Linked DNA regions of Homo sapiens. The protein of the gene in region 1 interacts with the protein of each later gene in a biochemical or structural test. Each region holds a gene or a part of one and is shown in the gene's direction. Other genes may lie near its edges. The genes, in order: RUNX2, PPM1D, USP24 and ETS1.

Region 1 (5,658 bases):
GAAATATTGCTAAGCAATTTCAGTTCATCCAGGCACAATGTGATTTTAAAAAATACTTCCATCTCCAAATATTTTAGATATAGATTGTTTTTGTGATGTATGAAGGAAATGTTATGTTTAGTTCTTTCAGATCTTTGAATGCCTCTAACACAGCTTTGCCTTCTAAAGCGGTAATTAGGGATTTAAAAAACAACCTTTAGCCCTTTATCAGCATGAAATGCTGGAGTGATGTGGTTTTCTAATTTCTTTGGGGTAATTATGACTCTTGTCATATTAAAAAGACAAGCACAAGTAAATCATTGAACTACAGAAAAATGTTCTGTGGTTTCATAGTTAAGCAAAACTCTAAATCGCCAGGCTTCATAGCAAAGACATAGTCAGCTAAAAGCCGCACATGTGGATAGAGGGTTCAATTATGAGACACCTAGTACAGGAGAGCAAAATTGCACCAGAGATTCTTAACCAACCAGCCTTACCAAACAACACAACAGGGGAACCCCAATCTGCCTTACCCAAGGCCCCACTGGCAGCTTTCCACAGAATTTGCATTTAGAGGAGCAGAATGACATCACTGTCCTTTGGGAGTAGGTCCTCTGAAAAGGCAGCAGGTTCCAGCAGGTAGCTGAGCTGAGAGGACATATGGCCCACGGGGACCTACAGACAGCCTTTGACATTTGTATTTCTTACAATGGAGGGCCAAGGAGGGCAAGGGGCTGTGGAGTTTGGTGTCTACTAGTGTGTATGAATTTGAGCTAGAGTCCTTCTGTGGCATGCACTTTGACCACTCCTGGCAGTCACATGGCAGATTTCCAAGTGCAAATCCTTAATCCAAACAAGGATCATCTAATGACACCACCAGGCCAATCCCTGCTCTCCTCCCCGAAAAGTCAGGGTCCCTTCATTGGAATCCTCCACCCACCCAAGCAGAATTTAGCAGAGATTTGCCTTCAAACCCTAACGGCCCCCTTGTTCTCTGGTCCTTCTCAAACCCACCTTTGTAGGCCACCCAGCATTGCAGGACAGCGTGTGGGGCAGCTGGACCTGTGCTTCCTGCCTGGGAGTCTCCCTTGGAATTCATCCTGACTCCTTCTAATAAAAATGGATGGGAAAGCAAAACACTTTGCCTTCTAAAGGCCGTATACCAAGTATGCTTAGATAAATAAGCCACTTTTCTATTACTTAAGTAAGAAGGAAGTAGTAATTGATACTATTTATTGTTTGTGTGTGGTAGCTTGAAGCACACCACTGTCCATTTATTTGTAAGTGTAAAATATGTGTGTTTGTTTCAGCAGCACTTAAAAAAGCCAGTGTCTGGTTACACATTTCAATTTTAATTAATTGACATAAAAATGCTACCGCCAGTGCCAGCTGCATCCTATTTAATTAAAAAGGTACTATATTTGTACATTATTTTTTAATGTTAAAAGGGCTTTTTTAAGTTTACAGTACACATACCGAGTGACTTTAGGGATGCTTTTGTGTTGAAATGTTACTATAGTGGCTGCAGGCAGCAACCCAGAAACACTTTAGAAGCTTTTTTTCCTTGGGAAAAATTCAAGCACTTCTTCCCTCCACCCTCACTCCAACCACCCCAATGGGGGTAATTCACATTTCTTAGAACAAATTCTGCCCTTTTTTGGTCTAGGGATTAAAATTTTGTTTTTCTTTCTTTCTTTTTTTTTTTTTTTCACTGAACCCTTAATTTGCACTGGGTCATGTGTTTGATTTGTGATTTCAAGACCAAAGCAAAGTCTTACTACTACTGTGGAACCATGTACTAGTTCCTGGGAATTAAAATAGCGTGGTTCTCTTTGTAGCACAAACATTGCTGGAATTTGCAGTCTTTTCAATGCAGCCACATTTTTATCCATTTCAGTTGTCTCACAAATTTTAACCCATATCAGAGTTCCAGAACAGGTACCACAGCTTTGGTTTTAGATTAGTGGAATAACATTCAGCCCAGAACTGAGAAACTCAACAGATTAACTATCGTTTGCTCTTTAGACGGTCTCACTGCCTCTCACTTGCCAGAGCCCTTTCAAAATGAGCAGAGAAGTCCACACCATTAGGGACCATCTGTGATAAATTCAGAAGGGAGGAGATGTGTGTACAGCTTTAAGGATTCCCTCAATTCCGAGGAAAGGGACTGGCCCAGAATCCAGGTTAATACATGGAAACACGAAGCATTAGCAAAAGTAATAATTATACCTATGGTATTTGAAAGAACAATAATAAAAGACACTTCTTCCAAACCTTGAATTTGTTGTTTTTAGAAAACGAATGCATTTAAAAATATTTTCTATGTGAGAATTTTTTAGATGTGTGTTTACTTCATGTTTACAAATAACTGTTTGCTTTTTAATGCAGTACTTTGAAATATATCAGCCAAAACCATAACTTACAATAATTTCTTAGGTATTCTGAATAAAATTCCATTTCTTTTGGATATGCTTTACCATTCTTAGGTTTCTGTGGAACAAAAATATTTGTAGCATTTTGTGTAAATACAAGCTTTCATTTTTATTTTTTCCAATTGCTATTGCCCAAGAATTGCTTTCCATGCACATATTGTAAAAATTCCGCTTTGTGCCACAGGTCATGATTGTGGATGAGTTTACTCTTAACTTCAAAGGGACTATTTGTATTGTATGTTGCAACTGTAAATTGAATTATTTGGCATTTTTCTCATGATTGTAATATTAATTTGAAGTTTGAATTTAATTTTCAATAAAATGGCTTTTTTGGTTTTGTTATGTGTGTACCTTGGGTCTTTTCTTGTTCACGGTTTCTCCCTAGTCTGATGTCTACTCCTGCTTACACCTGGGCACTGTTTGGTCTTAGGACTTGCCAGGGCTAGTTAAGAGAAGAGATGCTATATTACTGGGGAGAAGAAAAAAAATCTTGGTAAACGGTGTCTTCTTGTTTTGTCCTGTTCCTAGCGAGGGGTGGGCAAAGAATCTAGCAGTGAACTCACTTCCTTACTAGCTTGTGTCTGAAGGAAGGAGTGCTCACCTCATCCTTGAGTAAGGCCATTTATTCCAACTGGGGGACCTATCAGGCGTATAGATGCAGTCTCGATGGCTTCATGATTCTAATCTCTGAGAACATGAACAGGGCCCCGCAAGTGAACCTCTGGCTATCAACAGAAGATCTCAGGCAGCCCAGATATAGGCTAGTCTGTTTTCCTTTCCACATCTCTTTTGGGTTCTTAAAAATAAAGTCAACCAAAGCCCAAGGATGAGTAAAAACGGACCTTGGCCTGGAGGGCTATAGCCTCAGAAGAATTCTCCTAGTGAACATAACTATAGTTTGGAGATTTTTTTTTCCCGTGGCCATTGTTTATTTTTGGTAAGTCCCCCCCCTTGTGATAAGGTTGAAGACCTGGGGTAGAAAGGTTGCTTTCTCTGTGTCCTATGCTTTCTGAATGCTTGGGCTCACCACAATTCTAAAATAGGGACCCAGGAAAACATGGTGCAGAGAAGGTCAGCCAGTGGCCAAGCTGACCCACATCACAGGGAGAGTTAGAGACCTTGAAGATCTGCTCATTCTTAACCCTTTGGCACTATTTTCTAAGAAATCTTGGAAATAGTTAAATTCCAAGAATAGGAAATGTCCTGAAAGCACTTGGGTGAGCTTAAGCCAGGGAACTTGTCTGCAACTCTGAGGATGTAGATTTATTTATTTAAAAAAAAATCAAACATCTGTGTGACTTTAAAGGGCATTCACAAGGGAGGTGGTCACAGTGGCTTGCTTTCTGTCTCCAGTTTTCTCTATCAGGATGGTCTAGGGCAAATCCCTTTATTCCTCTGTGTCTCAGTTTCTTGGTTTATGAAAAGGCATTGGGCTAGATCTTGGCACTATTGACATTTCAGACTGGGTAATTCTTTTTGTGTGTGTGTGTCAGGGATGCTCTCCTGTGTATTGTAGGATGTTTAGCAGCATTCCTAGCCTCTACCCACTAAAAGTTAGTAGCACCTCCCTAGTTAGGACAATCAAAAATGTCTCCAGATGTTGCCAAATGGTCCCTGGGTGGCAAGATCACCACCGATTGAGAACCACTTAGCTAGAGGCTTTATTGACAGAACTGATATGAGAATACATTGCTTATTAAATCAGAGTAGCCAGGCAGAGGCTGAGGGACTTCCCAGTGATGGCTACACCTCAACCTTTTCCATCCCTTCACTTGATTTGGATGTATCATGAGGGCTGCTGTTGGCTTTTTCGTCTGCACCTCTTCACTCCTCTCTGCAACATGGGCTGTGCAGCCAGTGAACAGCCCAGCTGTGGGGCTTTGTTAAGCCTGGATTGGTTGGCCATATTTATCATGGCCTGTTTCTCACTGAAACGGCAGGCGGAAGAAGAAAGCAATTTCTGCAGTGTTTTTGACCCCTGGTGTCCCCTATCCCCCAAATATTTAATCATCAGGCATTTCTGCAAGAGTGGGTGTTTCCTGTTAACTCAATCCCAGCCGGGACTGGCCCAATAAACACCTCAGGTCTCTGTCATAGAGTTTATTTGGCTGGGAAATGGGTATTGCCATGTAAACAGGAAGGCCCCTGAAGTTATTATCTACAGACGCAGTGGAAGAGCCGCATGTTTATATTTATGGGACTTGAAAACAGTATGAAAGGCAAGGGAGGATGTCAGGGAAGCCCTCATTGGCAGTCAGTGAGAGCAGGTCCTACAGCTCTTTATTAGTTAATTTTTCATTCTCTCTGGAAATGGTTGGTAAACAATAATGACCTAGCCAAGAGCCACTGCAGAAATGGAGGTACTGGCTTGCCTGTACCTAGATTACCAGGTTAACAATAAGAAATGCTATCAGTTGGCCTCTCTGTCCTAACTATTCGAAAATTATTTTAGAGATCAGTCCTAGGAAGCAACAATTTGGAGGTATCTAAAAAGGATGCTTATGAAACAGTGTCACCATCTCTAAGTTCTTCTGGGGAAGTGGAGGACAACTCAACTGACTGCTCCAGTTGTAGTGAGTGTGGGCCAGCTCACCTGTGAAAATCCCAAGCAAATTCTCATGCATTCACTCCTTAGTCAGTTTCTGTGAGGCTGGAAAGGACATCTTCATGCAAGAGTTCATAACACCTGAGCTGTCCAGGTATTGGTACTGGGAATCAGGCTTACACCCTAGGCCTATGCACCCCAGGTATACTCCAAATTGCTCCCAACCCTTCTCGGCTCTTCCATTGTCTCTCTCCTCTGGCCCGGAAAAGGTGCTAAGAAAGGCCAGGTAGGAACCAGTATGTGGAGAGCTGATACTCTTGATTTAAACTCTGGGTTCTGAGCAAAGGCAAGGGAGTCTTTCCTTCCTCACCACCATTGCTGTGGACCCTGAGAAGCCTCTTTGTGTCTTCTTAGGGGCTTCTCAGCGGTAACTACTCAATCAGGAGGCCTTGGAAAGGAAATTTTAAAAAGTTATGAATCAAAACTTACCAAGGAAAAGGATCCAGTGAAGACGCAAAGGGTAATACACCAGGGATGTGTGTGTGTGGGCGTGTGTGTGGTGTATGTGTGTGTGTGTGTGGGGTGTATGTATGTGTGTGTATATGTGTCTGTGGTGCATGTGTGTATGTGTATTTATGTGTGTGGTGCATGTGTGTATGTGTGTGGTGTGTATGTGCACGTATATGTATATGTGTGTGTATA
Region 2 (9,405 bases), on another chromosome or scaffold:
GAGTTGCGTAAATTGTGGCAATATATGCACTTAGAGAGACTCTGTGGTTTAAGAGCACACAATATTAGGGGGACTCAAGTCAGCAGAATTCTAGTGAGCTGAGGGAAAAATATACAGGTAAGATAGTGGAAAATGGTTTATATAATTGTTTTCATAGAGCATTGATGGGAAGGGAAACAGGCACACTGAAAAAGTGAGAGGTAAGGGCTCAGTCAGCTGGTGTTTGGAGAGTGGAACCACATGCCGTAGGGAATGTGATAGATTCATGAATTAGAGATTAATGCTGCCTTTAATCAATTCTGAGGTGCATATTTTCTTTTAATATCTCTGAAATTGGAATACTTTTTACAAATGGTATATCACAGTTCAATTAACAGTGTTTTTGGTTTTTTTTTTTTTTTGAGATGTAATCTCGCTGTGTTGCCAGGCTGGAGTGCAGTGGCGCGATCTCAGCTCACTGCAACCTCTGCCTCCCAGGTTCAAGCGATTCCCCTGCCTCAGCCTCCCGAGTAGCTGGGACTACAGGCGCGCGCCACCATGCCTGGCTAATTTTTTTTATTTTAGTAGAGACGGGGTTTCACCACATTGGCCAGGATGATCTCCATCTCCTGACCTCATGATCCACCCACCTCGGCCTCCCAAAGTGCTGGGATTACAGGTGTGAACCACCATGCCAAGCCACCACGCCCAGCCGACAGTGTTTTTTATTTCGTTTGTGGCACATAAAATGATGCATCCATAACACAAGGCTCATGGTATTCTACATGAAGAAAACAATCTAAGTGATCCAGTCAGAGTTACAAAAAAGAATATCATAGTAAAACCCCTCAAAGTAGGAGGTTGAAAATAATAGAGCAGAAATTAATTATTTAGGGAGATTCACAAAACCCAGAAGGGCAGTCTTTTAAGAAGACACATAAGGCATGATTGATTGTTTCTAGTTCAAGAGAAAAGCACAAAAAAGTTTGAGTGGACATAACTACACTTAAAAATAGAGATTTTTAAAACACACTTTAAAAAATTCGAAGTATACTATACATATGACATTTACTATTTGTACTATTTGAAATTGTACAATTCAATAGTAAAAAATCCATTTATATTCTTTTTTTCCACCCTTCATCTCTCTCTCCCTACTACCCTTCCTGGCTTCTTGTAACCACAATTCTACTCTCTCTCTTTGTGAGATCTACTCTTTTAGCTGCCACATATGAGTGAGATCATGTCTTTCTGTGCTTGGATTATTTCATTTAGCATAATGTCCTCCAGTTCCATCCCTGTTGCTGCAAATGACAAGATTTCATTCTTTTCTATGGCCGAATACTATTTCATTGTGTATGTGTATATACACCACATTTTCTTTATCCATTCATGTATTAAATGGAATTGACGTAGGATGATTCCATATTTGGACTGTTGTGAATAGTGCTGCAATAAACATGGGAGTGCAGATATACCTTCAGTGTATTGATTTTCTTTCTGTTGGATATATGTATAGTAGTGGAATTGTTGGATCATATGGTAGTTTACTTCTGTTTTTTTTTTTTTTTTTTTTTTTTTGAGGAACCTTCATACTGTTCTTCGTAGTGGCTGCTCTAATTTACATTCCCACTAACACTGAGGGTTCCCCTTTCTGCACATCCTCACCAGCATCTGTAGTTGCCTATCTTTTTGATGCAAGTGGTTTTAACTGGAGTGAGATGATACCTCATTGTGGTTTTGATTTGCATTTCTCTGATGATTAGTGATGTTGAGCATTTTTTCATATATCTGTTAATCATTTGTATGTCTTTTGAGAAATGTGTATTTTAGATCTTTTGCCCATTTTAAAATTGGATTATTTGGGGCTTGTTTTGTTTTGTTGCTACTGATTTGAGCTCCTTACATGTTGTTAATTCCTTGTCAGATGGATAGTTTGCAGATGTTTTATCCCATTCTGTGGGTTCTCTCTTCACTTTGTTGATTGTTTCCTTTGCATTTTAGCTTGTATTTTCATTTGTCTATTTTTGCTTTGGTTGCCAGTGCTTTTGAGGTCTCATGCAAAAATTATTTGCCCAGAACAGTGTCCTGGAGCGTTTCTCCAATGTTGTTTTCTTCTAGTAGTTTCATAGTTTGTGAGATCAAAGTAGATCTCACAGAGGGAATAGAATTGTGGTTACCAATTCTACTAATTGAGATCTTAGATTTAAGTCATTAATCCATTTTGATTTGATTTTTGTGTGTGATGAGAGATAGGGGTATAGTTTCATTCTTCAGCATATAGTTATCCAGTTTTCCCCCTACCATTTATTGTTGCTCTTGGCACCTTTGTTGAAGATGAGCTGGCTGCAAATTGCGTGGATTTATACATAGGTTTTCTGTTCTGTTCCATTGGTCTATGTGTCTGTTTTTGTAGCAGTACCATGCTATTTTGGTTACTGTAGCCCTCTAGTATAGTTTTGAAGTCAGGTAGTGTGATGCCTCCAGCTTTGTTCTTTTGGCTTAGAATTGCTTTGGCTATTCAGGATATTTTGTGGTTTCATATGAATTCTGAGCTTAAAGAAAAAATTATGTGAAGAATGTCATTTCAATTTTGATAGGGATTGAATCTTTAAATTGCTTTGGGTAGTATTGTCATGTTAACAATATTAATCCATCCAATCCATAAGCATGGACTACCTTTGTATCTTTTTGTGTCCTCTTCAATTTCTTTCATCAGTATTTTCTAGTTTTCCTTTATAGATCTTTCACATCTTTGGTTAAATTGATTACTAGGCATTTTATAATTTGTGTACCTATTGGAAATAGGATTGCTTTCTTGATTTCTTTTTCAGATTGTTTGCTGTTGGTATATGTAAATGCTGCTGATTTTTGTATGTTCATCTTGTATCCTGCAGTTTCACTGAATTTATCAGCTCTAACAGTTTTTTGGTGGCGTCTTTAGGTTTTTGTAGGTATGAGATCATGTTACCTGCAAACAAGGCTCATTTGACTTATTCGTTTCCAGTTTGGTTACCCTTTATTTCTTTCTCTTGCCTAATTGCTCTGGCCGGGACTTCCAGTATTGTATTGAATAACAGTAAGTGAGAGTGGGGCATCCTTGTCTGTTTCAGTCCTTAGAGGAAAGACCTTCAATTTTTTTCCCCATTCAGTATTGATGTTGGCTGTGAGTTTGTCATTTTGAGGTATATTTCTACTATACTTATTTTTGTTGGGTTTTTATCATAAAGTGATGTTCAATTTTACGAAATGCTTTTTCAGTGTCTATTGAAATAATATGCTTTTTTTTTTTGAGAGAGAGAGTCTCACTCTGTCACCCAGGCTGGGAGCACAGTGGTGCGATCCCGGCTCACTGCAGCCTCCACCTCCTGGGCTGAACTGATTCTCCCACCTCAGCCTCCCAAGCAGCTGAGGTGGGAGGATCACTTGAGCCCAGGAGGTGGAGACTGCAGTAAGCCGAGGTCACACCACTGCATTCCAGCCTGGGTGACAGAGTGAGACCCTGTCTCAAAAAACAACAAACAAAATTTTCCACTCATTTTCATTAGTCATTTATTTCTATGGGTACTTTTAATACATGCAGGCAGCCGGGCACGGCGGTTCACACCTGTAATTCCAGAACTTTGGGAGGCCGAGGCAGGCAGATCACCTAAGATTAGGAGTTCAAGACCAGCCTGGCCAACGTGGTGAAACCCCGTCTCTACTAAAAATACAAAAAAAAAATTTAGCTGGGCATGGTGGCAGGTGCCTGTAATCCCAGCTACTTGGGAGGCTGAGGCAGGAGAATCACTTGAACCTGGGAGGCGGAAGTTGCAGTGAGCCGAGGTCTTGCCATTGCACTCCAGCCTGGGCGACAAGAGCAAAACTCCATCTCAAAAAAAAAAAAAAGAAAGAAAAGAAAAGAAAGAAAAAAATACATGTAGGCTTATTTCCTGGAGTACATCATTTTCACTTTTGTTCTGTGAAACCTAGCAGATTTTAAATTCATATATGACACTGGAAGTTTTATTCCAAGCCACATTTATTTGCATAAAATGAGATCCTTTTGGTTTTGTTTTCTTTACTCGTTCAATTGGTATATATTTGTTCTTTATACTATAAGCAGTTATTGTATTACTTTTTCCTCATATGAGTGACATTGACTGTTTATATATATATATGAGCTGTTTATATTTCCTTTTCTCTGGATTTTGTTTATATTCTTTGACAATTTTTATGTTGAGTCATTTTCTTCGATTTGCAGAATCTCTTATGTTAGAAGGAATTTGACCCTTTGCAATGATTTTTTTTTGTACCATGCCTGATTGTCTTGTTTGTGAATTATGTTTTCTTAAATAACTTGATGTTTACTTCTTGTTGTTGTTGTTGTTTTGAGACGGAGTCTCGCTCTGTCGCCCAGGCGGGAGTGCAGTGGCGTGATCTCGGCTCACTGTAACCTCCGCCTCCCAGGTTCAAGCAATTCTCCTGTCTCAGCCTCCCAAGTAGCTGGGATTACAGGCACACACCACCATGCCTGACTAATTTTTGTATTTTTAGCAGAGATGGGGTTTCGCCATGTTGGTCAGGCTGGCCTTGAATTCCTGACCTTGCAGTCCACCTGCCTCCACCTCCCAAAGTACTGGGATTAAAGGCGTGAGCCACCACACCTGGCTACTTTCTTTTTAAGTAACTTCTTTATAACTTTTTCTTTTCTTTTTTTCTTTTTCTTTCTTTCTTTTTTTTTTTTAAATGGAGTCTTGCTCTGTTGCCTAGGCTGGAATGTGGTGGCCTGATCTTGGCTCACTGCAACCTCCGCCTCCTGGGTTCAAGCGATTCTCCTGCCTCAGCCTCCTGAGTAGCTGGGACTACAGGCATGTGCCGTCGCGCCCGGCTAATTTTTTGTTTTTTTAGTAGAGATAGGGTTTCACCATGTTAGCGAGGATGGTCTCGATCTCCTGACCTCATGATCCACCCGCCTCCTCCTCCCAAAGTGCTGGGATTACAGGCATGAGCCATTGCGTCTGGACAACTTTTTCTAAATAAAGTTACAGTGAAGGCTGAGTTTCTTGATAAAAATAAAAATAGTGAAATTTAATGACAGGATAAAACCTTGTTTTATTAGTATTTTTTGAATTTAGAAAAGTATTATTTTAACATGGCTAAGGAGACTGGGGATAATGTTTGAAAATTTGGGAGCTTTGGCTGGGCGCAGTGGCTCACACCTGTAATCCCAGCACTTTGGGAGGCAGAGGCGTGTGGATCGAGGTCAGGAGATCAAGACCATCCTGGCTAACATGGTGAAATCCCGTCTCTACTAAAAATACAAAAAATTAGCCGGCCATGGTGGCGGGCGCCTGTAGTCCTAGCTACTCGGGAGGCTGAGGCAGAAGAATGGCATGAACCCGGGAGGCAGAGCTTGCAGTGACCCGAGATTGCATCTCTGCACTTCAGCCTGGGTGACAGAGGAAGACTCTGTCTCAAAAAAAAAAAAAGAGAAAAGAAAAAAAAAAATTGGGAGCTTTGTTTGGGCCACAGCGAACACCAAATATTTAATTTGATATAGATACAGATGTAGTGGCAGCTAAATCTGAGTTACTTTCCTTCTCCTTGTTCTTTTGAATACAGGGTGAGCATGGACAATCTTGTGCCAAAATGCTTGTGAATCGAGCATTGGGCCGCTGGAGGCAGCGTATGCTCCGAGCAGATAACACTAGTGCCATAGTAATCTGCATCTCTCCAGAAGTGGACAATCAGGGAAACTTTACCAATGAAGATGAGTTATACCTGAACCTGACTGACAGCCCTTCCTATAATAGTCAAGAAACCTGTGTGATGACTCCTTCCCCATGTTCTACACCACCAGTCAAGGTATATAGTTCCATAGTTTTTAAGTTATGTTTTAATAGACACCAGTTCTTTGGTTAGCGTCACCTGGAAACAATTTTTAAATTCTTACAGGATTTTGGATTTGAACTCGATTCAAGAAAGTGATGTAACTTATTATCAGAGAGCCATCTTTACATCAATACTAATCTGAATGCCAGCCATGTGTACAGCACTAATAAAAAGGTGATTGTGGGCCCTTAAGAATATTATTGTTTGCCATCTAATGCTATGAACATTATTTTTAAAGCATTTAGAAGTTTGTGAAGCACTTAAATATATTTTATTTGAATCTCGTAGCCCAGAAGTAGAGCTAATGTTATTATTTCATTTTATCAGTAATAAGCCTGAGAGATTAAACTGTCTAAACAAGGTCATAGAGAATCAAAATTGAGCTGGACCTGAGGATAGCAGACGTTACAACTGGTTGTCTGTTAACTCGTATAAGAAACTTTATTCCTATTTCTTATCCATGTTAATATTGATTGAGTTTAAGATATGCTTTGAAATAAGCAAATTTTAAGTAGATATCATACTTTTTTGATTTACTAAGAACTCAAATACTTGGTTGTGTTTTCATCCTAATTTTTCCCACCAAAAATTAGCAGTATTGATTGATAATTGCTTTAATACATAGCATGGCTAACCTGGCTTTCTGAGAATGTGTTTTCAGTAGACTGACCATTAAAATGGGAAATGTAGGGAAATCTAATGTCACCTATTCAGGAAGTTTTTTAAAGTGTCAAAGGCCTTTAATTTTGGGCGTCGTAATCCTATAGTCAATACTTGGAAATGGATTATTACTGCTTTGCTTTCTTTCACTTTACATACATATGGCAAAAACCACATATGGCCAGATACAATGGAATGTTTTCATTTCTTTTTCTTTTTTTTGTTTTTGAGACAGAGTTTCACTCTTGTTGCCCAGGCTAGAGTGCAATGGCATTATCTTGGCTCACTGCAACCTCTACCTCCCAGGTTCAGGTGATTCTCCTGCCTCAGCCTCCCAAGTAGCTGGGATTACAGGTGCCCGCCACTACGCCCTGCTAATTTTTTGTATTTTTAGTAGAGATGGGGTTTCACCATGTTGTCCAAGCTGGTCTTGAACTCCTGACCTCAGGTGATCCACCCGCATCGGCCTCCCAAAGTGCTGGTATTATAGGCCTGGCTGAAATGAAGTATTTTCATTCACAAAAGGTTTCTTTTCTTTGAAAACCATGAATGGTAATGCAGGTTGAAACCCTTTAAAGCCTCTTTATTCTCTTTTCAAAGCTGTGAAAGAGCTTATGTTTGTATATTTGCGTATTTCTGAATATTTGTATGTAATTATTACTTTCATGTTCCCTTATAACTGACCTTTAGGCAGTATAGAGAAGGAGGAGACATTAGGGTGGGGAATAGTGTGAGGAACAAAAGGGCATTCTTAATATTGACCTCAAATAAAAATTATTGCAGTCTGCTGACTGGCATTAGTAAACCCATACATAAAATACGTTTAAAAAATTACTTAAGCTGGGCACAGTGGCTCATGCCTGTAATCCCAGCACTTTGGGAGGCTGAGTTGGGCAGATAACCTGAGGTCAGGAGTTTGAGACCAGACTGACCAACATGGAGATACCCCATCTCTACTAAAAATACAAAATTAGCCAGGTGTGGTGATGCATGCCTGTAATCCCAGGTACTTGGGAGGCTGAGGCAGGAGAATCGCTTGAACCCAGGAGGCGGAGGTTGCGGTGAGCCAAGATCGTGCCATTGTGCTCCAGCCTGGGCAACAACAGCAAAACCCCATCTCAAAAAAAAAAAAAAAAAAATTCCTTAAATTCTGGGCTGGGCGTGGTGGCTCACGCCTGTAATCCCAGCACTTTGGGAGGCAGAGGCACATGGATCATGAGGTCAGGAGATCGAGACTATCTTAGCCAACATGGTGAAACCCCATCTCTACTAAAATACAAAAAATTAGCTGGATGTGGTGGCTCGTGCCTGTAATCCCAGCTACTTGGGAGGCAGAGGCGGGAATCGCTTGAACCCGGGAGGTAGAGGTTGCAGTGAGCTGAGATCGCGTTGCAGCACTCCAGCCTGCTGACAGGGCAAGACTCCATCTCAAATAATAATAATAATAATAATTCTGATAATGACCTAATAATACTACTAAAGTAAAGATAAGAAGACGTATGTTTGCCATATGCAGGTATAGTTATTTGTTAACCCATTGGCCCTGCCCAAATATGGGAAAATATTTAGGTTAATTCAGAATAATTAGTATTGTTGGCTCTGATCTAACAACTAACAAAAGACAGATTTCTGCCCAAGAAATTGTTTTTGGTTTGTTTTATTTACCTTAATTGACATAAAGGTGAGTACTCCTGACTATATTTAATTTACATCATTATTAAAGTTGTCTCATGTTTAGTAACATAGAGATAAATTTAATTATAATGTGGTTAATGTTGAACAGTCAGAGACTTAATCACATTTAGACAAGGCATTTGAGACTAGATTTGTCTGTAAACATGTCAGCTTCCATTTGAATTCTCACATAAATTAGTCTTTGTTTTGGGATGGAGATAGTGGAAAAGCCTTTGTTTAAGTAAGATAGATTACTATGACACACATTTCTTTCTCTGTCCTTTGTTTAGGGCAAAACTAAATTTAGCTATGTTTTACAAGCTAAGATCTTTAAGAACGGAATGGGGAAGAGAGCAAAGAGTTTCAGAAAATTAAAACTTAGTTTTAGTTGCATTTTAGGCACAGTTTGTAATTAATTGTTTAATATTGGATTACAGGGTAGATGGGAGGAGAAAGTTGATCTCTGAAGCAGTGAACTTTTTTAAAGTATGTATTTTTAGGGGTAACCTCAATATCACATAACTGTTTTACGAACATGCAGGCCTTAGCAATACAAATTAACCTGGGGTACATCTAAGAAGTCTAAACAGTTGCCTGTGCTAACAGATACAATGTATTCCCACAGAATGCCAATAAAAAGAGAATTCCCTTCAGAAATGTTCAAGAAGAAAGTAGGGGAAGGGAAGCCAGCACACCTGTGGTGTCAGAATAATATTCTGTGCATTTAGGCTGGGTGTGGTGGCTCACGCCTGTAATCCCAGCACTTTGGGAGGCCGAGGCGGGTGGATCACAAGGTCAGGAGTTCGAGGCCAATATGGTGAAACCCTGTTTCTACTAAAAATACAAAAATTAGCTGGGTGTGGTGACATGTGCCTGTAATCCCAGCACTTTGGGAGGCCGAGGCAGGCTGATCACCCGAGGTCAGGAGTTTGAGACCAGCCTGGCCAACATGGTGAAATCCTGTCTTTACTAAGAATACAAAAGTTAGCTGGGTGTGGTGGTGGGTGCCTGTGATCCCAGCTACTTGGGAGGCTGAGGCAGGAGAATCGCTTGAACCCAGGAGGCGGAGGTTGCATTGAGCCAAGACTGTGCCATTGCACTCCAGCCTGGGCAACAAGAATGAAACTCTGTCTCAAAAAGAAACAAAAACAAAAAAACAGAGAAGTGATGTATTTGGGGCAGTACCAGATTAGTAACTAGAAATTCTTTGTCCTTTTC
Region 3 (6,506 bases), on another chromosome or scaffold:
AATGAAACATCAACTGGAAAAACCTTTCAGCGAACCATTTCAGCTCAGGTGAGAGTTGTCTCTTGTTTTTGCGTGGTCTAAATCACTTATGGAGGATTTTCAGTGTGTTTCTCAGAAACTGCAACCTCTGAGAAGAGAGGTATGAGTTGAAGATGAGAACAAGCAGAAGAAACAATTGGATTTCTATGAAAAGAAAACAGATTGGTGTACACTTACACAAATTTGTGCAGATTATTTGTCTAGAAGGAAAGTCATACAGGTTGGGCAGTCTGGTCACAAAAAGGGACAGGGGTTGAGGGGGTTCTGGTGACTGTGATGAAGGCCTCACTCTCAGGCCTCCGGTCCCACTGAAGGTCAGATGAAAGGTAGTCTTCCCTGGCGGTTGCTGCTGCCACTGAATGGGCCCTAACTTTGTCGTCTTGTGTTTGAATCTTCTGCAGGACACGTTAGCGTATGCCACAGCTTTGTTGAATGAAAAAGAGCAATCAGGAAGCAGTAATGGGTCGGAGAGTAGTCCTGCCAATGAGAACGGAGACAGGCATCTACAGCAGGTATAACGGTCAGCATGTCCTTGTGTGCAAAGGGCAGCCTTGCTCTTAAGCTTTCCAAAAAGAATTTCCACAGCTGAGGGAAAACAAGATGCTTCCTCTGGAATGTGAGTCCAAAGAGTTACCAGCGCTGCCCTCTAGTGATCTCAGCTCAGCATATGCACTAACCGTGTGTTTACAGGGCTGAGTAGTGCTGCAGTGTGAAGTGAATGGAAGGCCTCGAGGTGTTTGTGGCTGGCCACCCTGATCAGCCTGCAGGTAGTCCCGATGAAGCCAGGGCACAGGGGGATTCGTTCCAGCTTGTTCACTTTATTCTGCCTTGCCAGGTTACTGAAAGTCCCTCGTTTGCTCTCACCAGCCTTCCTGGAAATGTGGACTCTTGAAAGAAAAGCTCCCGTGCTCTTGAAGTATACCTGCTTGCCAGGGGAGTCCAAGAAAATTTTGACATGTATTTTTAAAAAAAGAAAAAAAAACAGCTTTAATACCAATCATTATAGTAGAAAAAGAAAATAAATATGTATTGAACACCCACTGTGTGCAAACACTGAACTAAGTGTCAGTTAATCATTACGTCTTTCCAATAGTCTGTAACTTTCCTTAACAGCAGTCTCCTCTGTGGTCCCTTCACAGTACTTGGTACAGAATAGGCCCCATTAAATGAATGTTACTGATGTAGTAGGTGTCATTTTTTTTTAAGTGTTATCTTTCGGATCCTCATAAGCACTATGTGAGGCAGCTGTCACCCTGATTTTACAGAAAGGTAACTGCAGCCCAGCACAGTGATGTGACTTAGCCCAAGGTCACTCCACACATTACCTCATCACCTACTTCATTTGCAGAGAAAATAAAAGCTGTCACAGGAGAGCTCCTGCGGCCACTAATTCCCAAGCATCTGCACTGTTCTTGTCTCCTCTCCTGTGACAGTGGGAAGTTTGCCTCTGTCCACCCAAAGCCCCTAGCGCTCATCCCCGCCCACCTTGGCAGAGCTTTGCGTTCTAATGTGTATGTAACTCTTCAATATCCAGAACGCTCCACCCTGCCAGACCCTTCCCAGCGACGTCTCAGCACACTGGTTTCTCTTCTGCCCTGTCAAAGCCTCTCTTCTGCCCTGTCAAAGCCTCTCTTCTCCCTGTTGCCCCTGCCTTCTTTTCTCTTCTTTGCAGCCAAACTTCGACTAATTCTCTAAACTTAACTTTCCCCATTTTCTTATCTCTCACTCGCTCTTCAGCCTCTTCCCTGCTAACTCCCTCTTCTCTCCAACTCAGCAGTTGGGGTGACAGGTGGCCTGCAGCTTTCAGGCCTCATCTTAGCCGACTGCTCGGCAGCATCTAGCGCTCCTGGCGCTCTTCCCGTTTGAAACACTATTCCAGGGCTTTCCTGACACTTCTCTCTCGTAGTTTTCCTCAAACCCTTCTGGCTGTTCCTTCTCTGTCTCCTTCCTAGTACTGCCTCTTCTGGACCACCAGTAAAGGTTTGTGGAGTCTCTAACCTGTATCCTCCTGCCCTCACTCCATATTCTCTCCGCACCCACCTTGGATTTCTGAACATGAACATCCAGCTCTCTTGTTCTTGACGTTCTCCACTTGGCATACCTTAAAGACCTCAGACTCGATGTGCCCAGCCCCTCCTCCCTGCGCCCACCAAAGCTGGCCCTCCGTCAGTGTTCCTTATCTCACACACAGCACCCCCATGTCATCCCGGACAGCTCCCTTTGAAAGGGTGCTCGTCCCTCTCCTCCACCTGTCATCAGCCCCTCTCTGCCTACATCTGTAAGGATCCCCTCACCTCCACCCCTGCTTCTCTCTGGTTCATGCACTAAAACCTTTCAAAGGCTTTGTATGAGGAGAAAAGCCAGAATCCTCAACACAGTCCTGCTTGATCTAGCACCTGCGCACCTCCCCACCCCCATTTTCTGATTTTTTTTTTTTTTTTTTTTTTTTTTTTGAGATGGAGTGTTGCTCTGTCACCCAGGCTGGAGTGCAGTGGTGCAATCTCACCTCACTGCTACCTCCTTCTCCCAGGTTCCAGCGATTCTCCTTGCCTCAGCCTCCCAAGTAGCTGGGATTACAGGCATAAGCGACTGTGCCTGGCCCATTTTCTGAATTTTATTTATCAAATGTACTCTCTTCCTTCCACCTCAGGGCCCCCCTACTCACCCCCAACTCTCACTCAGCTTAGGTTGTCACTTTAGAGAGACTGTCCTTGCTCCTCCCCACCCCAGCTCCAACTAGATCAGCCCCATGGCACACGGTGAGTATTCAGAACGATTCGCCAAGTGTGTAAGCCAAAGGCCACACAGATGGTAACAGAGGTAGCCTTCAGACCCAGGAGTGACCCAGAGCCCATATTTGGCAGGTGCAGGGCAGGGAGGCTCACACAGTGCCCAACGTGAAGCGGGCACAATGGCCATCAATGCCTCTCCCAGCTTTATCACTGCTCTGCGTTCTCACATGGGTGCAGAGTAGCATTGTGACTTTAGACAAGTCGCTGGGTTGTTTCACTGACTAAATGAGATCATAGAAATGTACATGTTTTACATAATCATGAATTGTCAAATATTAGATGTAATAGTTATCACATTTTATTACCCTTTGATAAACATTGCATTAAGTTGCCAGATGAAGACATGTTTAAATTGCAGAACACAAGTCAGCATAGAAAACCTTTTCTCTAACCGTATGAACTTTAACTTCCTTTTCTTTTCTGCAGGGTTCAGAATCTCCCATGATGATTGGTGAGTTGAGAAGTGACCTTGATGATGTTGATCCCTAGAGGAACATGCCCAGCCTGAGAGGAGTCAAGACACAATACTGGATGCTCAGCACCTTCTTGGAATCAGAATCTCGAACCCTTTGGAAGAGCCTGGAGATTGGACTGGGAAAGCTGCTGTGACTTGGGCGGATCGTGTATTTCTCAAGGAAAGCATTTTTAAGCCACTAGAAGGTTTGGGAGCTGTTTGGCAGTGGGAGAACTCCGGCATGTGGATCAGCTGTCCCGGGAGCGTGGTCTATATGTGGATTCACATTTCTGTGGAGATTTTCGGAAATAGAGCCAGTGGCAGACTTTTTTGTTACACGAACATACAAGAGTGAGCATAAAGCTGTTGCTTTCTCTACGATGCTACAAAAGAAATTCCTTTGGTTTTTATATTTTAAGAAAAAGCAAGCTGCTTTTAGATATGTGGGGGCAAATTTTTAATCTTGCAGTAATATTAAACAGGAATATCCAATTTAAAATGATGTAAAGATGTAATAAAATTCCTTTTCATTGTAAAATAGTAATTAAGTCAATTTACACAGACCTTTGTATTTAATATGTCTCCCTATTTGTATAGAATTTCAGATGGGTCTAGATGAGAACCCTATGCATAAGCTTGGATCTTGATGAAAGGTTACCAGGATCAGGATCAAAAATTGGGAAATACTAAGCTCTTGAAGATATTTTTCTGATATAATTAGATTGAAAAGAGCAATTTTGAAAATGCTGTGTTCTCCAGAAGTACAGGGTGCATTATTTGACATCAATTACTTAAAGAAGTTATGAGTTGTTCCCCAAACAGATTTTAAAAACAGCAAAATAAAAGCACTTTAAGATATAATTTTACTGAGTTTAACTTCACAGAATTATCTTTTTAATGCTTGGAGACATATTGAATAAACTGTAGTCTTAAATCATGTGATCTGCAATCGTTTGCTTTTGCTTAAAACATAATTACTGAAACCCTTGGTATTGGTTGTATATGAAGTTAACTATTTGAGTTGGTACACACTGCTTGTGAGTTTCATAGTTATTGTAATGCAGAGAAGGAATTTGAGAATTTGTTTCTCCTCAACATGACTAATTAACACTGAAAAGTCAGTCAAGGTTTAAGATTTATTTTCCCAGAAATAAATATAAAGCAATTGAATAACCATCCATTTAGTCGTATTTCCAAAGTATAGCACCATTCACTCATTTATACCAGCTCCCTTTTATGGTGTGGGGGAGAGGTTTACACCCACATATTTCATATATATTTTGTACATTTTGTATTTTGAATTGCTCACATTTTCGGCCCTGTTTTGCCTTTAGTTACAGGTCCTGCCTTATTTTCATCTCACCATGCACAGAACTAGGGAGCCTTAGGAAGTGCCAGGTTTTCACTGTCAGATTTGCCAAGTCACAGAGGCGCAGCCAGCCCTGAAGTGCCTGTCTGGCTGCTGTGGCATTGTGTGGGCATGTGGCCAGGCAGATGGCATCTCATTACTGTGCTCTCGCCATGGCCCAGTCTTTTCATTCTCTGGCAGTGAGGGTTTCTGTGCTGTCAGACTTCATTGTTATTCTGTGACTTGCTGGAGGTTGGCAGTGGCCTTTGTCAAACACACTGAGAAGATGGAAGGGCCAGCACTTAAGAGCAGAACTGTACCCTTAGAGAAACGGACAGAGGCGAGTGGCAAACTTCAGACGGTTCCAATGGTCTTGCAGTTTGAAATGTGATGTTCTACCATTGGTTTTGAGTACGTGAATACTTCCTGTCCTACTGTTTCCCCTACCCTATTCTCACCTTCTCTCCGCCCACATCCTCACCAAGAGATTGTGTGGGACATGACCTTGAAATGCTGGCGATGATCCACACTGGGATATCATCGCTGGCGACTGCACTCTCAGGAGCCCAAAATCAGGAGTGAAATTGCCACTTCTAGTCCCCTTATTTCCTATGGAAACAACGCCTTCCGCACCCCTAGCACCTGCCGTCCTCACTGTAAAGCTTCATCAGGATCGTCCACCGTGTATATTATACGCTTCAGATCATGTTGCTTATATTGTTGCTGCAATGACCATCGTTTTCACTTTGCTGGTAACCACTTGATTGCTGACAGCTACAGTCAATGAACCTGCTGATGACTTTTTTTAATGTAGTACAACAGTGACAGTTATGACAGGCTTACCTTGGAAGAGTTGTCATTTTTACTGCCAATTTTTTGGATGAAGATGTTTTTATAAACCTTTCAAAATGGTCTGCAAACAGAGCAGGAATTGCACAATTAACTCAATAATGCTGTGTGTTCTCAAGAAGCTCCCTTAGTGAGGCCGATCTTAAGATGGCCGATTCTGCCCGTTGAAGGCATCCTGGGAAAGAAAACAAGCATCCCAGCGGGCATCTCACCACGACTTCTCCTGGAGTCCTCACACGGTCACTGACAACTACAGTCAGTTTTAGGAACTAGAGTGCCGTATCATCAGACTTACCCTGTCCTGCCCCACCTTCCCTGCTAACATCGAGGTGTGTGCAGTTACCTTCTGAGCTTGGAACAAGCAGACTGGAATTTTCCTCTGCTACCTCTTGTGTATAAAATCTTGTTTATAAAATTTCAAAAGGAAGTAGATACACTAGGGAAGAACCTTAATTCTAAATTTGGTTCATGTGTGGCAAAGTTCTTAGCTTCTAAGAGTATAAAATAAATTTTTCAAAAACAGAGTTGGAGTCTTGCCGCCATTCTTCATATATCAGAACACAGCCGTAGTGGGCGGGGGAACACGAGCCTGTGCCTGGTGCTAAATGCTGTTGATTCCTCTTAGTACTTTACACTAATAAAGGGGACTGTGGGTCCTCTGAGCCTGTTGCTGTTCTTTTCTCTGGAGGGGCTGACCATTTCAGGATTCATCTGCAAAGCTTAGAGGAGGATGCTGAACTTAGGTTGATGGTCTCCATTCATCTCCACCAAAGCTTTTGGCTCTCCCAAGTGGTCCCCAGCATAGATCGTGTCGCTGGTCACACTGGGCTTCTTGCTAGATCCCACAGGTCTCAGTCTCATTCCTAGTGGCCAGCGTTGCTCACATGGGTCCCCTTCCCTATTTGCTAGTCCAGATTTTCGCCTTCCTGCAAGCCACACCCCTTCCTCCCCGATCCCTGGTGACCACCTGCTAACCCTCTGCAAGAACCAAGTTGTTCCAACATCACAGAGCTGTCAGGGTGTG
Region 4 (9,405 bases), on another chromosome or scaffold:
AACTGTGAGATAGTAAGGACAAGTCCTATTATTGTCCTTGTCTGTAAAATGAAGCTCAGGGTAGGCGATTTCTTCAGTATCACTCATCTCCTTTTCTTCATTTTATTTCAACTTTCAGTATATTTTTATTTTATTTTATTTTATTTATTTTTTGAGACAGAGTCTTGCTCTGTCACCCAGGCTGGAGTGCAGTCGCGCGATGTCGGCTCACTGCAACCTTCGCCTCCTAGGTTCAAGCGATTCTCCTGCCTCACCCTCCTGAGTAGCTGGGACTACAGGCGCATGCCACCATGCCTAGCTAATTTTTGTATTTTTAGTAGAGTCAGGGCTTCACCGTGTTGGCCAGGATGGTCTTGATCCCTTGACCTCGTGATCTGCCCACCTTGGCCTCCCAAAACACTGGGATTACAGGCGTGAGCCACCGCGCCTGCCCTCAATATATTTTTATTTAACTTAAAATTTAACATCCCATCCTGTGCTTTTTGTATAATAATGTGGATTCACAGGGGCCTTCTGGCCGCTAAGACTGGTTTGGCCTCACTTAGGGTAAAGGAATAATGTAAGAAAATTTAAGAGAATTAGGATATAAGTCAGTATGTTTGAGAGCAAAAGTCATATCTTCCCACCCAATATTCTGTTGAGAGAGGCAGAAAGAATTCTCCCTCTTCAGGTTCAGTTACTTGAAGAGATGAGCATGATGTTTGTGCTGAGGCTACAGCTTTTGTTCTGTAATTAAAGCAACACAGCAGCAAAAGAACATAGCTGTTTGGGGTGGGGTGGAAGGTGAAAGGTACGGGGATGTTTCAATCTGATAAACTGCTAAAGCAAAGTTTAATCATTTTATCTCAACTGGGAACTGTTTTTCTGTGCAGGCATAAACTTGTTTTCCCATCAGACTTTGCTCCTAACAAGCTATCAAATACCTGAGGAAAAACCCAAACCCATACTCTATGTCAGATTCTTATGGTGAAATATAATCAGACTACTCCATACAAGAATCGGAGCCATGGCATTTGTTCCAGGGTAATTAGAGGATCCCAGGCTTACTGCAGGGTCGTTCAGAGCTTTCTGTCCGCAGGTGCACTTCGTCTCCCTTCCTCTCCTTTTCCTAGGGGAGTTGGCATCTGGGCAGGAGCTTGACTGGGTTGCTCTTCTCTCCCTTGACACAAGCGCAGTCGCATTTCACCAAATGGAGTCACCTTACCAGTGTCCTGCTTCTTGTCTGGGCCTGAACTTGAAACCTGAGGGCAATGGGAAAAATACAAAACAAAAACCAGACATCTGTTAGAGGAAATGGAGAACGTAAAATCTATGGCCTAAAGACTGCAATATATTTTTGAGAAATTTTGAAATTGATTAGTTTGGGGGTTGGGGATTGATCCTGCTAACCTGGGATGTACTCAAGCCTTTGGCTATAGTGTGGTCGACATACACGCAGCACGAATGCATTGAGAATGAATGCTGAATGCCTTCTGAGCCCTTAGAGATTACTCATGGATTCTCTTTCCAAGATACTAAATCCCATTTTGCAGCTACTGAAATAATAACCTTAGTCATATTTTTTTGATCTCATCTTTAGACAAGGCCACAGTCAGGACAGACTCAGATACCAACCCAGTTAATGAGTATGCAGATTTCTTAGAAAAGGGGTTGAGATCATTGTGGTCTTTGCATCCAAGATCCTTTTAGGCCAAGCATGACTTGAATATTGACCTCTTTGTTCCTTCCCTATCTGTTCATTACAGAGGATGTGAAACCATATCAAGTTAATGGAGTCAACCCAGCCTATCCAGAATCCCGCTATACCTCGGATTACTTCATTAGTAAGTTCATTTCTACCCCTCTTCTCTCATGATAATAGCAAACTAGGAAAAGACCCCTATCTCAGTGAATCTCAGGCTCCTTCATGGTAATTCTATCAAAAATAATATCTTCTTAGATGTAGACTCTTCTTTGTTACTTTATTTTATTATTTTCCACAAAGCACAAAGTTTCAACCTATATATATGTTTCATTAACCTACCAAGTTCCTACACACTAGGATCCTTCTCTGATGTCTTCACCTGAAAGTCATGCAGAGAGACTGCAACTAGACCCCTAAACTTTTGTTCCTATTTGATACTGTGCACTACGATGGCCAAAAGAGGGTTGGGTTAGGGATTTGATCTTGGTCTTTGTTCTTTCCTTTTTACTAGTGGAGATAACAGCATTTCCTCCAAAATCCTTCTTTAAGAGTGTGCTATGCAGCTTCAAATTCTATTATAGGAAATACAGTCTTCTCCTTTTTCGTGTAAGATACCCAACCATACTGAAGAGATGGCCTGAGGGAAACAATGAATGTAGGCCTGTTGCACTAATGTAAGCTCTGAGATATAGGACCATCTTATCTGATGGCTGTGCTTTTACAGGGAATATGAAACAGGTTTTATTTTTTTCGTTTTATCTTTTTACGTTATTACAATTTTTATTCCAGTGACACAATGATATTAACTACTCTGTGTCAAGAGCTTATTGTGTGGGGAATGTTGGTGGGCATTTGACCTCTATCCTCATTTCATCTTCATCACAGTGCTCCGGGAAAAATCGCAATCACCCCCATTTTAGAGATGAGGATATGAAGTCAGGAAATCAATTACCTTGTCAAGGGCTAAAGCTGTTTAGTAGTGGACAAGGTTAAAAATGCAAGCTTTTCTGATTTAAAGTATTTTCCCTTATTCTCTAAGGAGCTTGTCCCACATCATAGGGCCCTGTAGATGGTGAAAACTGCTTATTTTAGGTACAAATCTCTCCTCTCTTTACTTGCAAACCCTTTGTTTCCAGGCTATGGTATTGAGCATGCCCAGTGTGTTCCACCATCGGAGTTCTCAGAGCCCAGCTTCATCACAGAGTCCTATCAGACGCTCCATCCCATCAGCTCGGAAGAGCTCCTCTCCCTCAAGTATGAGAATGACTACCCCTCGGTCATTCTCCGAGACCCTCTCCAGACAGACACCTTGCAGAATGACTACTTTGCTATCAAACAAGAAGTCGTCACCCCAGACAACATGTGCATGGGGAGGACCAGTCGTGGTAGGTCATATTTCTTCTCTAAAAGCTCTTGGGTTTACAAGAATTACCTGACTTTGTGAGTTTTTTTCAGGTTCCATTTTTTTTTTCTTATTTATTAGACCTGTAGATTCCTCAGTTTCAGCCTTCCCATCTTAGAGTGTCCAGATACTAAGAACTTTCCATCGTGGTGTTTTAGCCAAGTCCATTATTATGACAAAGGCCATGGGGTCCACAGTGAAATCAAAATCAGGCAATCTAAGAAATTAAATATCTTACTTGGGCAAAATGTTTTACTCAATAACTCTAGTTGAATTTGGTCATTTTGAAAGGTATGCTCTATTTTCCTTGAGGAGGACATAATCAAGTAAAAATGGTTCAAGTGGCCACCCTGGAAAACCCTTAAGCTTAGCATGTGTCCTGGTGCTCCTCCCAGAGGACTCCTGGGTCTGACTGTAGATCCTAGCTGGGTACCTGGAATGACCTCTGCTGGCCAGCCTGGGATCTTTAGCCTCCTGTGACTTTTTCGGTTTGGGAAGATACAAGATGGTTAACCAACGGTTTATTTGGAACCAGTCATCAGCAGTGTGGTGAAGTGTGTATTTAGCTAGAGGACCAGGGACGGAGGTGGCCAGGGGTTTCCAAAAGAAGGTAGTTTTGTTAACGTGACTATTATAATAGTGATAAAATATTCACTGTCAGGGAAGAAAGTGTTTAAAAATAGAGCTGGGTGACATAAAGCAAAAAAGGTAAAATGCACCCAATTTTTAGGAACAGGACATAAACACTCAGAGGTACAGCCTACCTAGTAAAGTGTCCAGATTGTTTTGTTTCTGAGAAAAATGCAATCTATTGTAAGAAAGGGTTTGTCTATTTAGCAAGAGCTAGATGATTTCTAAAAAGGTGAAAAACCTGACTTTTCTGGTGGGTAAATGGGAAAGAATTATAAATGGGAAGAGGAACAGGAGAAAGCTGATCAAGCGGGGCTTGGGTCAGATGTCAGGCTGGGGCTGGCCTATTAGTGATTTCTGCTCAATGACTGACCATATGCGGTGCCTATTGTGAGGCTCTTGGAGGAGAGCCCAATGGTACCTTTACTTTGAAGAATCATGGGTCATGCCCATTGTCGTCTTCTTCGAGTATTCAGACTCACACTTCCTCCTAGCAGGCCTAGGGATCACCAACAAGCCCTGCAGAGGGAAAGTCCCTGCAAAATCAGAACCCCTAATCTTCCTTCTTAAGGCCCCAGGGTGTTAGTGTTTCAGACCGAAGGGGATGGGTGGGACCAGTCGGCCTTCCCCTTTCTGGCTCTTTTTTATTTTTGGGTGCATGTCTATTTAAATACATACACACAAGTGTGTGTACATGTGTTTCTTTTTTATCAGGCGAGTCAAAGCATTAAAACGACTTTCTTCCTTGTGGGACTTTCTGTACATCTACACAGTGAGGCCAAGCCTGTGGGTTTGGGCTCAGCCATGTTGTAACTTTGGGTCGATCTCCTGTCACATTGTTTTGAAATTGCATCTGGCTTTGCATTTGTGTAATTGTCTCTTTCCCTCTCCTTTTCTTCATTCTTGGTTTTGGTCCCTACCACCCCTCCAACCCCAAACTAATGACTGTGGACCAAAAGTGACCCTTACAAGGAGACATGAGGTATTTCTTTCTGGCTCCACTCTTCTTCCCTCCCTCCAAGTTCAGGCCACAGAAACTTGAGGGGAAGACCATTTTGTGCAGGGCTGTTTTCTGCATGTTAGAAGTGCTGCAAACAGGGCCTATGCAAAGGGCCAATTGATTCTGAGATGCTGTGATTGGTCTAGACCGAAAGCATTACTGTTAGCTGATTGTTATTTATACTAACCATAGTACAGTATTCACGGGCTGCATTACAGCGTACAGAGTGCTTCTATGCCCCACTTATTTGGGCCCTAAGGACTGTCTTTGTACGAGTCTACTCAGTGGGTGGCTGGGTGCTGCCGCATCTTCTGTTTTGAGTGCTCTGAGGTCTGTTTGGTGGACTCAGATAGCTTTGGAAGGAGCTCGCCGAGGCCCTTCTCAGAAAGGCTGGCTAGTGGACAGTTTAGAGAACACAGGTTTCCCTACATGAGCGCAGCAGCATAACTGAGTATCTAATCCAGTTGGATTCTACCCATTTTTGGAGAAAATACCCGTAAATGAAGGTTCCCAGCACCAGGGTTGTGAAATCGAGCTAAAATGAAAGCTGCCTACCGCTGTAAACCACAACTCTCAACAGGGTTGCATTTGCCTCATGTTTGGGGGGTTGCCAGAGACTGGTTCTGGCTTGGTTTAGTCCCCTTGCTTAGTGGGACTCCTTGGAAACTCTACTATCTTGCTTGTGAAAATTCTGATGTCCTTTTTCTCCAAGTATAAAATTGGCTGATAGAAATGGAATCATTTCAGAGAGACTTTAGCATAAATACTATCGACTTGGTGCGGTGTTGATGAAAATATAAATTCTCCTTCTTAGGCTTTTGGTATGTTTGTCTCAAAGAGAAAATAAGTGACCATGAAGATCAGTAGCTGGTATGAACAAATACCTTTTTATGAGACGCCACAGAATTTCCTGTTCTGCTAAAACAAGGCTTTGACATTCTGGTTGTAGGCTGTTTTCTTAAATCATTTAGTGTGAATTTCTTGAAAGAAAATTAAATGATCTCTAAAAAGGTGAAAAAGATGACTTTTCTGGTGGGTAAATGGGAAAGAATTTTTAAGAATTATAAAGAAATATATATTCATTTTTAGTAAGAATGAAGAGGTGCCCTTTTGCTAGTGGACTGGGTGGGCAGGGCTGATAACTCCATGAAGCTCTTCAGTTTGCTTTCCAGAGATTACCCTCCTCTGAATGGATGAGTGGAGGAAGGAATGAGATGAAACGGATGACACCACCTTTCTGTTTAAAGCAGTTCCAGAGGGGGTCAGGATGTAGAGAAAACCCACAGCAGTGGATTTTACAAAAAGTACACACTCAACCGAATACATTTTATCCGGATCTTTAAACAATGTTGGGAGCAACATATTTTCCTATATATTTAATTTAGGTTTGGGCATCTGTTCATGTTTGATGTTTATTGTTTTAACCAATCTCCGCTGTCATGGAGGGAAAAATACACTGGAGGCACACTAATATGAAGTTGTATAAGTCAGCCTTATTCTGGGATTTGAAATTTATAGATCAACCACCCCTGAACAATTAAGAGTTGACTTACGGATATTTCTCCGTAAACATTTGTCACATCCCTTTGCCTTTTGGCCTGTGCTGAATTGAGGTGACCATCTAGTCTCCTATGATTTAACTTAGGTTACTTGAAAAGTATCTGAAAGTTGCATATAAAAACCATTCCTGCGAGCCTTTTTCGCTCTTAGATTCATTTGTTTTCCTCCAAAACTATTTTTTTTTTTTTTTTGCTAGCCTCCTTTTTAGTGGCATTTTTGCCAATGGAAATTTCTCCAGGAGCTATTGTGCAATCATAGCAGCTGTTTATAACCTGGTTTGGGAAATTAATGAACTTGCATGATCTTGTGGTCAGTTAAGAATGCCTTAAGCAACTCACACAGTAAAGGATTTCTGACACTGCTGTGGACCTTAACTCTTTAATAAACCTTTTAAATATTGCCTACACTTTTCCAATGAAGTTTAAATTTCAAGTACATAATTTTACTTGGAGAGGATAAAGAATATGGTTTTCTGTTTAGAAGAGTGATAGTGTGTGTGATTTTAAAAAATCTCTTGGGAAAAGCATCTTACACCATCTTACTCTATTTGAAAAGGCATAGGGTCAGTACATGTATTTCATATTAAAATAGTATTTGGGAAAAATGCTAAAAAATAGCACTTAGTTCCAAGGTCAAAACAGGCTAATCTGCTCTTAGTCTAATGGGATTCTTTTTTCTTATGACCAAAATGTTTTCCAAACTGGGCCTTTTGAAGTCATCTCATTGGCTTGAGCTGGAGTGGGGAATTCAGCCTGACATTGCTCTGATTTCTTCATTTATTCATTGGGCCTACGACATCAGCCAGAAATCATATCATAACATGTGTGATCCTCAGCTTCTAGATTTCTGGCTTTAGAACTCTTGAGGACCCAAACGCTACTCCGACAGATGTGAGCAACGTTTGACTCTGAATCTCTGTACTTGGAGTTCTCAAACCAGGCAGCAGAGTGGCCGTGGACCCTCGGATGGTGGCCTAGTGCAGCCCCTTTCCTCAGAGTAAACCCATGACCCCTGAAGCTTCTGTTCCCACTCGCCTCTCCCTTCTTCCGTCCTTCCTGCAGATCTGATTAGCAATCTGTCCTCCATAAGAGGGTTTTTACAGTTTTTTTTTTTTCCCACTCCCTCCTCCCCCTGTCCTCTTCCTACCTCCTCCTTTACCTCCAGGTAAACTCGGGGGCCAGGACTCTTTTGAAAGCATAGAGAGCTACGATAGTTGTGATCGCCTCACCCAGTCCTGGAGCAGCCAGTCATCTTTCAACAGCCTGCAGCGTGTTCCCTCCTATGACAGCTTCGACTCAGAGGACTATCCGGCTGCCCTGCCCAACCACAAGCCCAAGGGCACCTTCAAGGACTATGTGCGGGACCGTGCTGACCTCAATAAGGACAAGCCTGTCATTCCTGCTGCTGCCCTAGCTGGCTACACAGGTAGGCGCCCTCCCGCTGCTTAGGCCAACTCCATCTGCACGTTTCTGTGGGTGGGGTCCTGGAAGGCACTCTGCACCTCTGACCAGAGACGACGAGAGACTCCCTTTTGCAGGGCACGGGGGAGAAGTCTCTCTAAGAATTCTTTAGTCTCTCTCCAGCCACTCTGCTTGTGAATAGCCATTGATTTTTGGAAGCAAATAGTATCATTCTCTTCAAAGGGATCATTTCCAAGAATGGTAGGAAACTTACATTTTGGGTGTTTTTCCATGTCTGGGGGAAGGGAACTATAATGATCTGGTGTTCCTGGAAACTCTATCTAGTGGCCTGGCATCAGGGGATTTTTCCTGGTCTGCTCTTGGGAGGTCTTTCTAAATACAAAATCAGCAGCAGCATCTCTCAAAGGCACAACTGAATGGCCTCCGCACTGGACTCTTCTGCAGCACGGTTCTCCTTAGGCCAGCTGTTCAAATGTGGGAACAGTATCCTCAGTGGCACTACGCCCTGTCCAGATCCATCCTGGCCTATAGAGAATGCCCCTTCTCTTACTCGGCTTTATTATCAGTTTTCTTCCAGGAGCGAAAGCTATAGTTATGATAGTGATGGGTGAAGAAAGGCCATAGAGAAAGGAAGATGTAGGTTGAGAGCTTGAACTTTGATTGAGACTCTGGTAGTAGAGCAAAACAATGCTTTCTTCAAATGGGTTGTAGCATATCATGCTACTTAACCAGAAAAACATGTGGAGAGTATATCTGAGAAATAGCCAAGGAGCATTAATGTGTTAATCATCAGATCTCTCTGTAAGATTGTAGTGTTTTCTAAAAATTAGAAAGTGTGTTGTGAGTAGAGCTTATTTTAAAGTAGCTTTGATTACTCAGATGTGGTCTAGGCCTTTATTCTCTTATAATTCTCTCCACCCTGGATATGTTTTCATGTAGGGACCCTTTGTGTGGATGATGACAAACAGCAAGATCTGTGTTTCTATTGAGGTGTCTCTCTGATCCTTAGAGTATGCTGAATCCTTATTTTTGCATTCAGGGAAGCCTTAGGTCTTTTATGAAGAAAACCAGTGACCTTTGAGAACAACTCAAATGCTTGAAAACTTACTCCTCCTTCAAAGATCAGGAGTATCTCTCTTATATTGCATTCCATGTAGCTCCTAGTGCAGTTCATTGCATGAGTAGTGCTCAGGAATTATGTCTACATGTTGGAGTAGCAACAAGGTCAAGGCCAGGAATGGAACTTAAAGGTCCTTACTTTATTCTTTCTACAATACCCTGGTGGTCTTTGCTTGAACATGGCTAGCATGTAGGAACTTAGTACTTTTCAAGGGAGTCCTTTCCCATCTTTGAAAGGAGATTATTAGGAAGTATATCCATTTCCATTAAAAACGTCTGGGATGAGGAAAAGTGTATTAAGTCACTCTCAGGAAGTACAAGAGTGCCAGCTCATGCAGTTATACCTGTTAGGGGTTAAAGAACTAGACTGCAGTTGAATATAGTGATAAAGGAAGGGAGATGTGCTGCTTAATTGGGAAGAGAAAGGAAAGGCAGAGGTAGCTCTAAAATGACTTTGTGGCCTTGGGAGGTAGACATTATCTCTAATTGGCAGTGCTTGCTTCTGTTTTTGTGGTGCAGAGAAAACTATGCTCTAGGTCTGAGTTATGTTTGGATAGATTGATAGTTGCCTGCCCACCCTCTCTTCTGC

The links.
Region 2: of the proteins of RUNX2 (region 1) and PPM1D, one has a biochemical effect on the other in vitro, tested with the Homo sapiens proteins (one study listed by IntAct).
Region 3: of the proteins of RUNX2 (region 1) and USP24, one has a biochemical effect on the other in vitro, tested with the Homo sapiens proteins (one study listed by BioGRID).
Region 4: the proteins of RUNX2 (region 1) and ETS1 form a complex in vitro, tested with the Homo sapiens proteins (one study listed by BioGRID).

The regions. Positions count from the first base shown.
Region 1 is NC_000006.12:45,548,330-45,553,987, forward strand, and holds the end of RUNX2 (runt-related transcription factor 2), read left to right. Parts: 3' UTR 1-2,753; downstream 2,754-5,658. UniProt on the Homo sapiens protein: Transcription factor involved in osteoblastic differentiation and skeletal morphogenesis. Essential for the maturation of osteoblasts and both intramembranous and endochondral ossification.
Region 2 is NC_000017.11:60,651,016-60,660,420, forward strand, and holds part of PPM1D (protein phosphatase 1D), read left to right. Parts: intron 1-5,583; coding exon 5,584-5,826; intron 5,827-5,916; exon of another isoform or gene 5,917-6,027; intron 6,028-8,624; exon of another isoform or gene 8,625-8,913; intron 8,914-9,405. UniProt on the Homo sapiens protein: Involved in the negative regulation of p53 expression. Required for the relief of p53-dependent checkpoint mediated cell cycle arrest.
Region 3 is NC_000001.11:55,065,859-55,072,364, reverse strand, and holds the end of USP24 (ubiquitin carboxyl-terminal hydrolase 24), read left to right. Parts: coding exon 1-48; intron 49-440; coding exon 441-551; exon of another isoform or gene 552-806; intron 807-906; exon of another isoform or gene 907-967; intron 968-3,257; coding exon 3,258-3,320; 3' UTR 3,321-6,006; downstream 6,007-6,506. UniProt on the Homo sapiens protein: Ubiquitin-specific protease that regulates cell survival in various contexts through modulating the protein stability of some of its substrates including DDB2, MCL1 or TP53.
Region 4 is NC_000011.10:128,478,487-128,487,891, reverse strand, and holds part of ETS1 (protein C-ets-1), read left to right. Parts: intron 1-1,745; coding exon 1,746-1,823; intron 1,824-2,820; coding exon 2,821-3,069; intron 3,070-7,440; coding exon 7,441-7,701; intron 7,702-9,405. UniProt on the Homo sapiens protein: Transcription factor. Directly controls the expression of cytokine and chemokine genes in a wide variety of different cellular contexts. May control the differentiation, survival and proliferation of lymphoid cells.